Linked DNA regions of Homo sapiens. The protein of the gene in region 4 purifies or fractionates together with the protein of the main gene of each other region. This does not show direct contact. Each region holds a gene or a part of one and is shown on either strand. Other genes may lie near its edges.

Region 1 (3,500 bases), on a different chromosome or scaffold from region 4:
AATTAATGAGAGCTATTCTTTGATAAACAGCTGAGGGATTTGAGTAGTTTTATGCAGTAATAATTGAGCCAGGCTAGGGTGAAACCTAGTGAATTTTCCCTCTGCTGTTCTGAAATACGCATCTCTGGTACTCTGGTATCATCTTCTTTTTTTTTTTTTTTGAGACAGAGTCTCACTCTGGAGTGCAGTGACGCGATCTCGGCTCACTGCAACCTCCACTGCCCGGGTTCAAGTGATTCTCCTGCCTCAGCCTCCCAAGTAGCAGGGATTACAGGCACCTGCCAACGCACCCGGCTAATTTTTGTATTTTTAGTAGAGATGGGGTTTCACCATCTTGACCAGGCTGGTCTTGAACTCCTGACCTCGTGACCCACCTGCCTCAGCCTCCCAAAGTGCTGGGATTACAGGCGTGAGCCGCTGCACCTGGCCTCTGGTATCTTCTAAATACAATTTTTGCTGTTCTTTTTCTGGTACGTAGCTGAGTGAATACTTACGTTCTTATGTTCTACTTTTGATTTGTTTCTTTGTTTTGCATTTATCATTATTTATGAAAAATTTCTCTTATTTCAGTATTTCTCCCAGCAGACATACTATAATTTTCTACATTCCAGCAAATTTTTCATTAGTATGATAAATTGATGTCTTGCATTTGAAGACAGGTATTGTTGGCCCCTAGCTAAGATTTAGGAAACAACCTAATCTTAGATAAAATCAGCAGCTTACTTAAATTGTCTTAAGTGGAGACTTTTAACAAATGCCTAATCTCATCTATTTTATTTTATTGTTAGTTTGTATTTTGAATGCCATTTTTTTACAGTCCTAAATTTCTGAAGGCGAGTAGCCTTCCATTTACTGATTATATTTTATGTGCTTTTAAAATCCAGCTCTATAACGTGTTTTCTAGCTTTTTGAGCATTTATTTTCTAGTACTTATTTCTAAATTTAGCCTTTCTATTCTACCTTACGTATGCATCTGCAGCACTTTTGACAGTCTTTTAGATTAAGTACAATATTATTTTTCCCCCAGCATTTTGAAGGTAGAACATCAAGGTGCAACACTAACCAGTTTGTGTTTGTGCATCCCAAGGTCAGAAACTATATCAAGGAACATAGCCCTCGCCAACGGCCTGCAAGAGAGGCCTGGAAGAGAAGCAACTTTAGTTGTGCAAGCACCAGTGGAGTGAGCGGTGCCAGTGCCAGCGCCAGCAGCAGCAGTGCCAGCATGGTCAGTTCTGCAAGCAGCAGTGGGTCCAGTGTTGGAAACTCTGCTTCAAACTCCAGTGCCAACATGAGTCGAGCACACAGTGACAGCAACCTGTCTGCAAGTGCAGCAGAGCGGATTCGGGATTCAAAAGTAAAACGTCTAATCAATACAAAACTTTACCTTTCAATATTAACATTAGTACTCCTTCATATAAATTTCTTGAAGAGTTAAAATGATCCTGCTGTCTAGTTGCCTGTGGGTTTTGGTCTTAATTGAACAAGCAGGATGCTCTGCTGTTGAACAAAGCACTCTAGGCTGAGTGCTTTGAAATGCTGTTTTGACCCACAACCATATTGCATTCAATCTTACCTGATTTTTGTGTATGTTTTAAGTAAGATAAATTGGTGGAAATAATGAGTTATTCTCAAGATTGCAATATTGACTGCAACTCACTACTGAGCGAATCTCACTACGTTGCTGATGTTGCTGTCTATTAGCTCCTAAGAATGTTGTGTATGTCTTTTGTGTGTGTTAAATGTTTTCTTAATGTTTTAATCTTAAATGTTTCTTCTTAGCTAATTTAAAAATCTAATACTTTCTATAATTTCTGTCTACTCTTTTCACAGTTGAGAAAGTTCTGTATAATATTGTCGGGCACTTAAAAAAAAAAAGAAGGTATAAGTATATTTAGAATGGTCCTGTGGCTTAGCAGGGGAGTTTGATTCCTTGCAATGGCAAGAATCTGGAGCCAGTTTAAAGATGATAAGAGAATCTCTCTAACTCTTTAGTGACCCAGTGGTGACTTGAAGATACACAATGATTCTTTCCCTGGTTCTTAGGGAAGTAGCAGAAACATAGCCAGTTTTGTTGCTAAGGAATTTCTCTAGATATGTGGTCATTCCTTTTTATTATCAGTTCACCGGTGACAAGGATGGGAGTATCCACTGAGTTTCTGATGGATTTTTAAGATGGTATTCGCCTACTACAAAAAAGGCATGATTTTTTTTTTACCTGCCATTGTAAGATTGCTAGTGTTTTTGGATGAAAGGCACCTGAGAATCATAAGTATTAGAGATTTGGGCAATGTTCTCCACAGGTGTATTCAGTATTGTCGCCTAGTATTAATTATGTGTTCATTATGCATTTGTACCAATGTACCTTAATGGAATTTAAAAAAGAAGTCTTTGAAGTGACTTTTTATCTATCACTAGCCAAAATGATCGTCTCAACTCTTCCTAATCAGAAGAGTCACTGGTCAAATACCACAAAATTGGAATCTTAATCATTTTTAAGCCTAAGCCAGTGGCTCACTTATTGGAACAAGGATCATACTACAGAAGGATTTGAACAGCTCTTAAAGTTAGAAAATAGAGAATTTGATCCACAAAACATTTTGGGGTGGATATGCCAAAAACTAAACCAAACTGATTTAGAAATTTTTATTTTGACAGAAGCGATCCAAGCAGCGGAAGTTACAGCAGAAGGCCTTCCGCAAGAGGCAGCTGAAGGAGCAGAGGCAGGCCCGGAAGGAGAGGCTCAGTGGGCTCTTCCTTAACGAAGAGGTGCTGTCCTTGAAAGTGACTGAGGAAGACCATGAAGCAGATGTTGATGTTTTGATGTAATAAGGGTGAATTTATCAACGTTCTTTGTGAGCATTAAAATACTCCATCCTTATGGGTTTACATGCATCTTGACCAAAATTTTGGTTAGGGCTGTGCTGATGTACCATTAATAATTTAAGCCAGTGGTTCTTGGCAGGTGATCCCAAGACCTGCAGCTTCAGCATCACTTGAGAAGTTGTTAGGAATGCATACTAGTGGGCCCCGCCCCCAGACATAGTGAATCAGAAACCAACAGGGAGGCGCCTAGCATTGTTTTTTTAACAAGTGCTGGGTTATTCTGATGCACAGTCTAGTTTAAGAACCACTACTTTGGGTAAACGTTTTGACTGTTTAAAGTTTATGGCGGTGAAGTGGGCGTCTTCAAAGACTAGTACTTACACAGTTTAGAAGATTTCAAGGTACTGCTGACAGTAGTTTATTATGTCAGTATACATACATGTGTAGAGATCATAATTTAGTTCCCTTCTTAATGTTACAATTTCTTAGTTTACTTTTCCTAAAGGGCCATAGCATAATTCTTGATTCCTGGTGGAAATCTTTTCTGAGGTGTGGGGGTGGGCAAGGTGTGGATTGCTGTTTACGATAGTGCCTTCATTAGTTTTAGTTCTGTCTGTTTTCATTCATTATTGACTCAAAGGTATTAGAACAGGCCCTTATCTTTTTCCTATTAGATT
Region 2 (4,154 bases), on a different chromosome or scaffold from region 4:
GAGATCCTTGTAGGCTAAAAGGGGAGTCTTCCAGATGTGAGATTGATAAAAGCAGGGAAAATTCAGTAGAAAGAGAAAGCCGAAGACCATGCTCCATGTGTAACTCATGAAGTGATTCAAAACAGAAAGCTAGCTTAATTCAAATCAATACATTTTTACTAAGTATGGGGTATTGCGAAAAAGCATATGGCCCTTGCCTTTTAGGAAATTGCCGTATTTAGAGGCAAAGCAAGACTTGCTTATATTCTCAAAAGATCCCCACTCGTTACCTTATTTCCCCTTTAAACCGCTTTACCATATTTGAGATCATGTTATTTGCTAACTTGTTTGTTGATTTGTTTTCCTTCCTTATCAAGAGGCAAGCCCCTTAAGGGCGGGGATTTTTGTCCTTTTTTCTTTTTGCAACCCCAACCTCTGCAATAGTGCCTGGCACAATGCAAACAGCTCAATAATAATTCGTTGAAAGAAATGGAGAATTAGATCGTAGGGTGAAATAATCTTAAACTCTCTGGCCTTGAATCTCTCTAGCTCGCCCAAGATATCAAACATTGGGGGTCAGGCCGAGAAGAGGAGAGGAACAATTTTTTCCTGTTAGGTCAGTGGTTTTTAGCCTTTGGTTACATTAGCATCACCTGGGGGCATCTTTAGACATCATCCCGAAGCCCAGACCGCACCCAGGACTAAACTAGAATCTCCAGCCAGTGGGTCTCAAGCATCAGTTTTTTGTTGTTTTTTTTTTGAGACATTGTCTCCTTCTGTCGCCCAAGCTGAAGTGTAGTGGTGCGATCTCGGCTCACCGCAACCTCCGCCTCCCAGGTTCAAGCGATACTCGTGCCTGTCCCCCGAGTAGCTGGGATTACAGGCGTCTGCCACCACGCCTGGCTAATTTTTGAATTTTTAGTAGAGACAGGGTTTCGCCATGTTGGCCAGGCTGGTCTTGAACTCCTGACCTCAGGTGATCTGCCCGCCTAGGCCTTCCAAAGTGCTGGAATTACAGGCGTGAGCCACCGCGCCCGGCCAAGTATCAGTATTTTGGAAAGTTGCCCAGGAGATTCCAATGTGCAGCCAAGGGGAAGAACAGACGGAGCCAAGGCGCGGGGATCAAGGATAAAGGAGACAAGCTCCACTAGGCAGAGCCGGGCCTCTTCTCGACGTCACGCCCTGGCGTTGCTGCGTGGTTCGTTTACTCAACCGAGAATAGGCCGGTCCTCGCTGTAGCAACACGACCCGCACAACTGATTGAGTGGGAAGCTCCGCAGAGGCGGACTCCAGCCTCCCGCCAATGAACGGGTAGGGTCCGCCCGGCACAGCGCGGCCACGCCCCCTGGACGCCGCGGTCCCGCCCCCGGACACCGCTGTCCGGCTCCCGGGCTGTCCTCAGCAAGGGCGCGGTCTGGTACTCGTGCGTCTTTTATCGCCTCAGTTTCCCTCCGCCGACTAGCGCGCGGGGCCCGGTTCTCCATCGCGCGCACGGCAGCCTAGCGCAATGAGGCGGGCAGCACTGCGGTAGGTGGCGGGGCGTGGAAGGGGCTGGCAGGGCGGTAGCCTGGGGTGCCATCGTCTTCCCCTAGAGCTTCGGGCTGGCCCCGGCGGAAGAAGTGGGCCACGCATGGGCATTTGGGCTCTATGATAAGGGGCGCTCGCCCACTGTACCTCCGACCGGACATAAGCCCGCCGGCCTTTGGTTGGGAGAACCTCGCCCCCACTTTGGCGACTTCTAGCACTGAGTTTGATATTAAAAGCAAAGCAGCACTTTTAAGGGAGGAAGTTGGGTGTTCCCTAAAATTCCTTTGGCCTTGCTCATCCGGGGTGTGGTTGGTAGCCGCGTCGGGGTAGCCCCTTGTCAGAAAGATAATATTTGGAGTTCTATGTTACCTCTAGCCCTTCATCTTCCTTTGGAGAACATTTTTAGGATTAAATGCTTGACCTACTTCGGCTCTTACTTAAGTTTGTTGTAACATTGGCAGAGATTACAGGGTACCTTTTGGCTCCCAGGACCCTAGGACTGTGCGTCTAGGACCCTGGTGCCAATTTGAACTTAACTTTAATGAGCCGCAAAGCCCTTATAAGAGGCTGGGTGCTTTGATTGGGCCACGTGGGTAAGGGAGGATGCCTTTTTGTATATGTAATCTTCCCAGCTGGCACAGTTAAGGCCTGAGGGCCTTAGACTCCAGAGCGTGTCTAGCTCTCCCTAATCCCTTTCACCCGAGCATGCCACCCTTTCCAAGTTTTCTGCCTGGCTGCATCCCAGGGGGCTCACACCTGCTCCAGTTTCTGAAGTTATCTCGCTGCCAGTGGGCCTGTCCCCCTGATGTGACTCATAGTGCTTTTGACTCACATTAACCCCATCAATTCTCTTGGGGGTCCTGGATATCTCTCTCTCTCTCTCTCTCCCTCTCTCTCTCTCTCTCTCTCTCACTCACTCACTGTTCCTGGGGACTTTGTTATCAGTTGTAAGGGTTCTGTCTTGTTTATAGTACTTAAAAACAAACAAAAAACCTTTGTTAAACTATTTGAAGGCAGACTGAAAGTCATTATGAGAGGGGCCACAGTTGACTTTAGCTTGCAATGTGAAAGGTCTTCTACAAAAGCTCCATGGTCTTGTTCAGGTGCTTTCTCTTATAACCCTGTGTTCCTTTCTTGAAAATTCTATTGAGGCCGGGTGTGGTGGTGCACGACTGCAGTCCCAGCGTTTTGGGATGCTGAGGTGGATGGATCACTTGAGGCCAGGAGTTCGAGACCAGCCTGGCCAACATGGTGAAACCCCGTCTCTATTAAAAATACAAAAATTAGCCGGGAGTGGTGGTGCATGTCTGTAGTCACAGCTACTTTTGGAGGCTGAGGCAGGAGAATCGCCTGAACCGGAAGGCAGAGGTTGCAGTGAGCTGAGATCGCGCCCCTGCACTCCAGCCTGGGCAACACAGTGAGATTCTGTCTCAAACAAAAAACTATTGAACCTTAAGCGGATAATCTCTTAGTGTCTAGTGAGAGGAGGAGTTCACAAATGAATATAGACTGAGATGATTAGGTTCTTTGACTGGTGGGCAACCTTTGTAGCTTCTTTTCTTTTTTAGACTTGCAAGAGGCACCTTTGTTTAGTCTCTAAATAGAGGTTATTTCCTCAGAGTGGAGGGCATATGAGTGGTATTGCCTGTTATTGCACTGAACACTCTTCCTTGCCAACTGCTGTAAGCTTGGGACCCAGGGCTGAGCCAGGGTGAGTTATGTGACTCCCCAGGTAGGCCATGGAGGCCTTGAGTTTTCTTTTTTTTTTTTCTCTTTGAAATACTTTTTTTATTTCTTTGGGATATATGTCCAGAAGAGAAATTGCTGGATCATATGGTAGTTATATTTTTAATTTTTGGAGGAACTGCCTCATTATTTTTCAAAATGGCTGTACCAGTTTACATTTTCACCAATAGTGTACGAGGGTTCCCTTTTCTCTACATCCTCACCAACACTTGTTATCTTTTGTCTTTTTGTAATAATCATCTTTTTATTATTATTATTATTATACTTTAAGTTTAGGGTACATGTGCACAATGTGCAGGTTAGTTACATATGTATACATGTGCCATGCTGGTGTGCTGCACCCATTAACTCGTCATTTAGCATTAGGTATATCTCCTAATGCTGTCCCTCCCCACTCCCCCCGCCTTGAGTTTCTTGATCTCCTTTGATTGGAAAGGTTCAGTTACAAGGTCCTGGGATTTGAGTGTTGCAAAGGCCTCTCCACAGTAAAGGCCTAGAGGTTTTGCTATAAGTAAGACTCCTGAGGGCTTATCAGGAGATAAGCCAGTAACCCTGAGGTACTGAAGTGTTGAGTATTGATTAAAACCATTCTCCCACCTCCTCCACCTCAGTGCGGTGTGTGTGTGTGTGTGTGTGTGTGTGTGTGTGTGTGTGTGTGTGTATGTATTGGGGGAGATCGGAAGAACTGGGCTCTATCTGGACTCTGCTGGTGTGCCTGTTGACTGGCACTGGGGGAAAGTCGTCTGAAACTGGGGCCTCAGTTTCTTAAGGAGGTTGGTTTGAATCAGAATCTTCAAATATAGGGGGATCTGAGGGTACAAAAAGGGTCTGTGCACCTCCTGAAATAGTATATACCATTGTGTGTGTGAGCAAAAATGTATTCCAACCCTTCCCACGCCCGC
Region 3 (3,500 bases), about 72 Mb from region 4:
AGTGGCTCACGCCTGTAATCCCAGCACTTTGGGAGGCCGAGGCAGGCAGATCACGAGGTCAGGAGATCGAGACTATCATGGCCAACATGGTGAAATCCCATCTCTACTAAAAATACAAAAATTAGCTGGGCATAGTGGTGCGTGCCTGTAATCCAAGCTATTCCAGAGGCTGAACTAGGGAGTCGGAGGTAGCAGTGAGCTGAGATTGTGCCACTGCACTACAGCCTGGTGACAAAGCGAGACTCTGTCTCAAAAAAAAAAAAAAGAAAAGACAAGAAAACTATTCAGCTGGGCACAGTGGCTCACGCCTGTAATCCTAGCACTCTGGGAGCTAAGGTGGGAGGATCACGTGAGGGCAGGAGTTTTGAGACCCGGGATGCCAACGTGGCAAAACCTCATCTCTATTAAAAAAAAAAAAAAATTGCTAGGTGCGGTGGCTCACACCTATAATCCAAGCACTTTGAGAGGCCAAGGTGGGCGGATCACCTAAGTTTGGGAGTTCGAGACCAGCCTGACCAACATGGTGAAACCCCATCTCTACTAAAAATACAAGAATTAGCCAGGCGCAGTGGCACTCGCCTGTAATCCCAGCTACTTGGGAGGCTGAGGCAGGAGAATGGCGTGAACACGGAAGGCGGAGCTTGCAGTGAGCCGAGATTGCGCCACTGCCCTCCAGCCTGGGCGACAGAGCGAGAGACTCCGTCTCAAGAAAAAAAAAAAAAAAAGAAAAATACTCAAAGAAGCAAATATGGGAGGAAACTAACGTTTATATATATAAAGCTTTAGAGTGTGAATCCAAAAAGGAACAGAAATGATAATTAAAAAAAAAATATGAATGCTACCTCTGTGTACAGCTGACTCCAGGCACATTAACAAGTAGGAGAGCCTGGCTTCACGCGATCGCGGAAGGTTTTCCACATTGCACCGGTATTTCTTCAAGTCACTTTTACAGGATTTGGCCAATGAATAACTGACTTTATAATCCTGGGCAATCAGCTTTTGGCGGGTTGTAAGTGCTTCTCGACACTGAGGAAAGAGTACAGCAACAGCCGTGAGACCACTCATGTAACTTTACTGTTGACGTGTACCACTAAGATGAGCACAGCGACTCAGCCAAGTACATGTCAACAACTGCAGTTATTACCAACATATCTATCTTTAAGTTTGGTTAAAATGTTCACAATTGAGCTAAACTAGTGTGGCATGAGACAGGGGTAAGTGGGTGGGGAACCTAGAAATTCTGTAGTCACTTGCTAGTTGTTGCTGCAATAGCAGCTATCCAAAACATGTAAATATCTCACAGATCCCAATATGTTAACTTGACACACAGCATTCTTTTCCACTTTAACAATACCCCGAACATAAATTTCACTAGCATCAAACTGGCAACTAACATAACATTTGGGATATTCTGTTCAATGCTTTAAAATACAATTATTCAATTATTCTATATCATCTGAATAATAAGATTTGAATAAGATTGTTCAAATGATACAAGAAAAAGGAAATGAGAAACATTTCTTCAGCTACACAGGAAAGTAAATGACAAGATAGCAAAATTAATTATTTCAAAAGCCATCAACTATTCTTGCATTCATTCAGGGACAAAGAACTAAAAGAGGATGCTTAATGATATAGCTGCTGAAAAATTAAATAGCTAATTGCCTAGAAAGCACATTGATTTGGTTAACCTAAACTTCTTGAGGAGGCAGGGCTGGCCTTAGTGTGGTTTTATATAAAATTCTCTGATTTTACTCCCCAAACAAAGTAATATCTGAGAATTTTATATAAAATCACACTGAGGATTTTATATAAAACCACAGTGAGAGGCGGGTGGATCACCTGAGGTCAGGAGTTTGAGAGCAGCTTGGCCAACATGGTGAAACCCCGTCTCTACTAAAAATACAAAAATTAGCTGGGCGTGTTGTCAGGTGCCTGTAGTCATAGCTACTAGGGAGGCTGAGGCAGGAGACTTGCTTGAACCCGGCAGGCAGAGGCTACAGTGAGCCGAATCATGCCACTGCACCCCAGCCTGGGTGACAGAGAAAGACTCCACTCAAAAAAAAACAAAAACAAAACAAAACAAAAACACCTAAAAAAACCACCACAGTGAGAACCCTACTTGGCTTCTCACTATCTAGATATCACAATCAGGGTTTCATTTTCTTGGTTTCAGCCAAATATGCTTAAAACCCAAGTACCTCACCTCTGAAAGCGGTGAGCTTTATCAGTCATTTACGTTTCGGTATAAGATTATAAGAAATATTGTTTCAGAGAAATTGAGAAAGCTTTTTTTTTTTTTTTTTTTTTGAGACAGAGTCTCACTCTGTCACCCAGGCTGGAGTGCAGTGGTGCGATCTCAGCTCACTGCAACCTCCACCTCCTGGGTTCAAGTGATTTTCCTGCTTCAGCCTCCCGAGTAGCTGGGATTACAGGCGCCCACCACCACGGCCGACTAATTTTTGTATTTTTAGTAGAGACGGCGTTTCACCATCTTGGCCAGGCTGGTCTTGAACTCCTGACCTCGTGATCCACCTGCCTCAGCCTCCCAAAGTGCTGGGATTACAGGCGTGAGCCACCGTGTCTGGCTGAGAAAGCTTTTAAAAAACAAATAAAACATTCATTAGTTTCAAAATAATACTTACCTTTTCACTCATGGATTCTTCAAATTTATGGTTAAAGAGGCACTTATACACTCTGCCCTCACCAGCTTGTGTCTATAAGATGGAACATACACATTATTATTACTTTAGCTAAATAGTTATGCTGAACATTATCCACAATCTCATATAGAGCTTTCTATTAAACGATTATAATCGTACATACCTTTGGACAAACAGCGCTTCCATTTATAAAATTTAATAGGCTTTTAACAAAAACAGTGACTGCAGTAAAGACGAAAAAAATATTCCCATGATATTTGGAGTTTGTCATTTGTTCTCAGATGTATTTTGTTAATTAGGGAACCAAGAGAAGTGTTAGAGTCTGAGTCTTTTTTTTTTTTTTTTTTTTTGAGATAGAGTCAGTCTTGCTCTGTTGCCCAGGCTGGAGTGCAGTGGCACAATCTTAGCTCGGTGCAACCTCTGCCTCCTGGGTTCAAGCAATTCTCCTGCCTCAGAGCCCCAAGTAGCTGGGATTACAGGCCCCCGCCACCCTGCCCAACTAATTTTTTTATTTTTAGTAGAGATGGGGTTTCACCATATTGGTCAGGCTGGTCTCGAACTCCTGACCTCAAGTGATCTGCCTGCCTCGGCCTCCCAAAGTGCTGGGATTACAGGCGTGAGCCGCCGCACCCAGCCTCTGAGTCTTCTTTCTTACAAGTGTATGCTAGAGTTAACGAAACTCTTACATCAGTGGCTCTGATGGTTAAAGCTGTTAATGCAAACCAGCAGGCAGAGTGGAAGTGTACACAAGTTACTTTCAGTACTTTGTTGTAAGGATGGAGAGACCATTCTATTTAAAGACTTAGAAGGCTGTTCTGTAGAGTCAGCAGGTGGTAA
Region 4 (3,500 bases):
GAAAAGGCTAGGGATATTCATTGTACTATGCTTTCAACTATTCTTCGGTTTTGAAATTTTTCAGAACAAAAATTAGTGGAGAAAGGTTCATCCTCAGTCCAGTAAGTTCCAGGAGACAGAGCCAGACCTACCTTATTCACCACTGTTTCTCCACTGCTAGCTCAATGTGTGGTCCTCATCCCACTGGCCCAGGAAACCACTGCTAATATTTCTGTGGGAACCTCCCTCCAAGCTTTTCCCTGGGCCTGAGGAAAGTTATACTGGGCATGCTGCTTTGCAACCAGGTCTCTTCAGGTAGAAACACTTTGTAACCACCTATCAGGAGAGTACATACAGTCTGCCATCCCCAACCATAGGTTGACTCCACATGCATGGATTCAACCAACAGTGGATAGAAAATATTAGAAAAACAAGAAATTGCATCTGTACTGAACATGCACAGACTTTTTTTTATTGTCATGATTCCCTAAAGAATATAGTAAAGCAGGCCGGGCACGGTGGCTCACGCCTGTAATCCCACCACTTTGGGGGGCCGAGGTGGGCGGATCACCTGAGGTCAGGAGCTCGAGACCAGCCTGGCCAACATGGCAAAACCCGGTCTCTACTAAAATTACAAAAAAAAAAAAAAAAAATTAGCCGGGTGCGGTGGCACGTGCCTGTAATCCCAGCTACTCAGGAGGCTGAAGTAGGAGAATTGCTTCAACCTGAAAGACGGAGGTTGCGGTGAGCCGAGATCGTGCCACTGCACTCCAGCCTGGGCGACAGAGCAAGATTCTGTCTCAAAAACAAAAAACAAATAACAAAAAACCCAGCAGACTGGTCAGAAAAGACTGTACAGCCACAGGGGTTTCCATGTAGGGAAATTTCTCTAGGCAAGGAGGAAAAGCCTGAAGAAGACAAGAACTGCTGAGAACAGGGCAGCAGGGAACATCCTGGACCCACCTGGGCCGCACAGGCTGGAAAGAGAGGCCGTGGCCGGGCATCCGAGCCTGGGCCCCTCACAGAGGAGGAACAAAGTGACAGGCCAGGAGAGGAGGGGAAGATGCAGGAGTGCTGGCATCTGGGGACCAGCCAGCAAGTCCTTGGAGCCCTCCCTCACCAGAAAAGGGGAAGCAGGAAGGACAGCGGCAATGGCCAGAGTGAGGAGAATGCAGCGTCCTGCAGCTCCATGGAGTGAGCGCCTCCTTCACGGAGCAGCCCTGGCCGCCCTGCAACTGAGGCCGCGGCACCGAGGGTCCCGCCAATGCAGCAAGGGGCGAGAGACACCACACCTAAGACTCAGGAGCAAGGTCCTGTCCCCGCTCCCAACCCCGGGGCTCCTGGAATCACCGAGGCAGAACTGAAAAGTGAGTGCGGGCCCCTTTCCCACATGTTCCACTGCAAAGGTCAACACACGCCAGGCGCATTTCAGTGAGGCTTCAAGTCTTCCCTGCAAATCTCATCAGCCTTTTCTGATGGCATTCAATGCACAGCGGTCACTTTCAGCTACAACCCCTTCCTACTGCAGTCGAATTAATTCCAAAAGGGAAAAAACAGGTTAAAGAATGGGACTTTAACGATGAATTTATTGCAAAAAATAAGCCCATAGCCAGAAGAATCCTGACTGGCATCCTGCTGAGACACACAGCCTCTCCTCAGCCCTCTCCAGCACGGGGAGAGGGCACTGTCACCAGCTCCGCAAACACGCAGGAGACGGGGACCTCCAGAACTAACGTCCTTGGTCTCCAGACCTACCTTCAAACCTCATCTTTAAATATTTCGAATCCCTGCGTGCTACAAGCTGACTTGAAACACAGATTGGGCCGGTCCCAGCACGGTGGCTGGTAGAGAGGGCATCTGATCTTGTCTGTGGAATGACGGAAGTCACTGGACTGTCCAGGAACTACATGCCCACCTTCATCAGATGGAAACCACACACTTGTTTATTCTGCAGGGGGCCGTGTGCTCAACAGTGAGCTGCTAATGTCAGGCTTGTCCATCTTTTTCATACACAGGCTCTACAGTACTGTCAGTTCCCAATTCTGTGGGTCCCTGTATAATCCAACTCTTTAAACAGAAACCAGGCTGGGTGCGGCGGCTCATGCCTGTAATCCCAGCACTTTGGGAGGCCGAGGCGGGAGGATCCCTTGAGACCAGAAGTTTGAGTAGCCTGGGCAACATAGTGAGACCTCATCTCAATAAATAAATTAAATAAATAAATAATGTAGGTGGTGCGCACCTGTAATCCCAGCTACTTGGGAGCCTGAGGCACGAGAATCACTTGAACCCATGAGGCGGAGGTTGCAGTGAGCCAAAATCATGCCACTGTACTCCAGCCTGCGTGACAGAACGAGACTGTCTCGAAAAAATAAATAAATAAACAAACAGAAACCAGAATCAGGTGCTCTTATAAGGGATGTGTAGCCCAGAAACTCAATCTTAACACATTCTAAATGACCTGGAATTTCTTGGAGCAAAAATTCCAGTTTAAATATCAGGAAAATTGTCTAGACTAAGAGAATGGAAACGGACTTTGTGCAACCAACATCAGGTACAGAAAAGAGACCCCAACAATCATCATGAACCCAAACAGGCCTTTCTCCTCACTAAGAGAAGAGAACACACACAACCCATGCCTTGTTACTCTTTGAGAAGATGTGCCCTGCCTGTGATCTAGCAGCTAGAGACGGAACATACAACCTGTTCTCAATATTCAAATAATTTTTTAAAGGACATGGTATCACACTGAGCAAGTGAATAATGCAATTCTGCTGTAGAAGAATGCACGGCTGAAAAGACCTGAGCAACTCATGTCCAAAACTTGCAGTTTCCACAGCAGCACTTCCTCCCAGCACACTGCCCTTTGAACCTGCTTTCTAAACAACTGTGCTGGGCAGCCCAGTGGCCACATGTCATCGCACAGCAGGTGTGGAGCAGCATAGAGCACCCTGGCCCTCGCACCTGCTTGGGGGACTGTTTCTGCACCCAGGGCTTCTCTGCAGCCACAACCTGCCCCACACAGAACTGCAGCACCACGTGGCATCCTGTCCATTTCCTCAGAAGGGGAAAGTGCCACGCCAGTGCCCACTCTCTTCCAAACACATCCTCTCAGAAGGGACTGGCCACGCTTGCCCCCTCATTTCTGCAGCGCTTCCCAGTTCATCACCTGCTTGCCAGACTCCGTCTCCCACCGGTGTCAATCAGCTGCCCTGGAGCATCTAAACCCTGGGTCAGGCGGCTCAGGGGATGAGTGCATAGACTGAAAAAGGAACACTCCCTGTTTCTCCCCAAAACTGTGCTGAAGGCAGTCTAGAGGGCCAAGACCTGTCAAGAAGAGCTGCCCAAGGCCTCTTTTCAGGCCCCACATCTCTGCAGGCTGCTGCTGGATCCTTCTCATAAGAACACATCTCAGAAAAGCAGAACAAACCACTTCCCTCTTACCACTGGGAGCTCACCTTGCCAGCTCTAGACTCAGCTTGGACTGGCTGTCAGGGCAACGTTGCGTACAGGAATACATCACA

Evidence for each region.
Region 1: the proteins of PDPK1 (region 4) and FAM199X purify together in Homo sapiens (affinity purification with mass spectrometry; 2 studies listed by BioGRID and IntAct, with this or other methods). This does not show direct contact.
Region 2: the proteins of PDPK1 (region 4) and ACOT9 purify together in Homo sapiens (affinity purification with mass spectrometry; 2 studies listed by BioGRID and IntAct, with this or other methods). This does not show direct contact.
Region 3: the proteins of PDPK1 (region 4) and GLG1 purify together in Homo sapiens (affinity purification with mass spectrometry; 2 studies listed by BioGRID and IntAct, with this or other methods). This does not show direct contact.

The regions. Positions count from the first base shown.
Region 1 is NC_000023.11:104,186,953-104,190,452, forward strand, and holds part of FAM199X (protein FAM199X), read left to right. Parts: intron 1-1,087; coding exon 1,088-1,354; intron 1,355-2,655; coding exon 2,656-2,826; 3' UTR 2,827-3,500.
Region 2 is NC_000023.11:23,740,477-23,744,630, reverse strand, and holds the start of ACOT9 (acyl-coenzyme A thioesterase 9, mitochondrial isoform a precursor), read left to right. Parts: upstream 1-1,354; 5' UTR 1,355-1,486; coding exon 1,487-1,506; intron 1,507-4,154. UniProt on the Homo sapiens protein: Mitochondrial acyl-CoA thioesterase. Catalyzes the hydrolysis of acyl-CoAs into free fatty acids and coenzyme A (CoA), regulating their respective intracellular levels. Regulates both mitochondrial lipid and amino acid metabolism.
Region 3 is NC_000016.10:74,492,115-74,495,614, forward strand, and holds part of GLG1 (Golgi apparatus protein 1 isoform 3 precursor), read right to left. Parts: intron 2,718-3,500; coding exon 2,646-2,717; intron 1,027-2,645; coding exon 843-1,026; intron 1-842. UniProt on the Homo sapiens protein: Binds fibroblast growth factor and E-selectin (cell-adhesion lectin on endothelial cells mediating the binding of neutrophils).
Region 4 is NC_000016.10:2,541,021-2,544,520, reverse strand, and holds part of PDPK1 (3-phosphoinositide-dependent protein kinase 1), read right to left. Parts: intron 1-3,500. UniProt on the Homo sapiens protein: Serine/threonine kinase which acts as a master kinase, phosphorylating and activating a subgroup of the AGC family of protein kinases.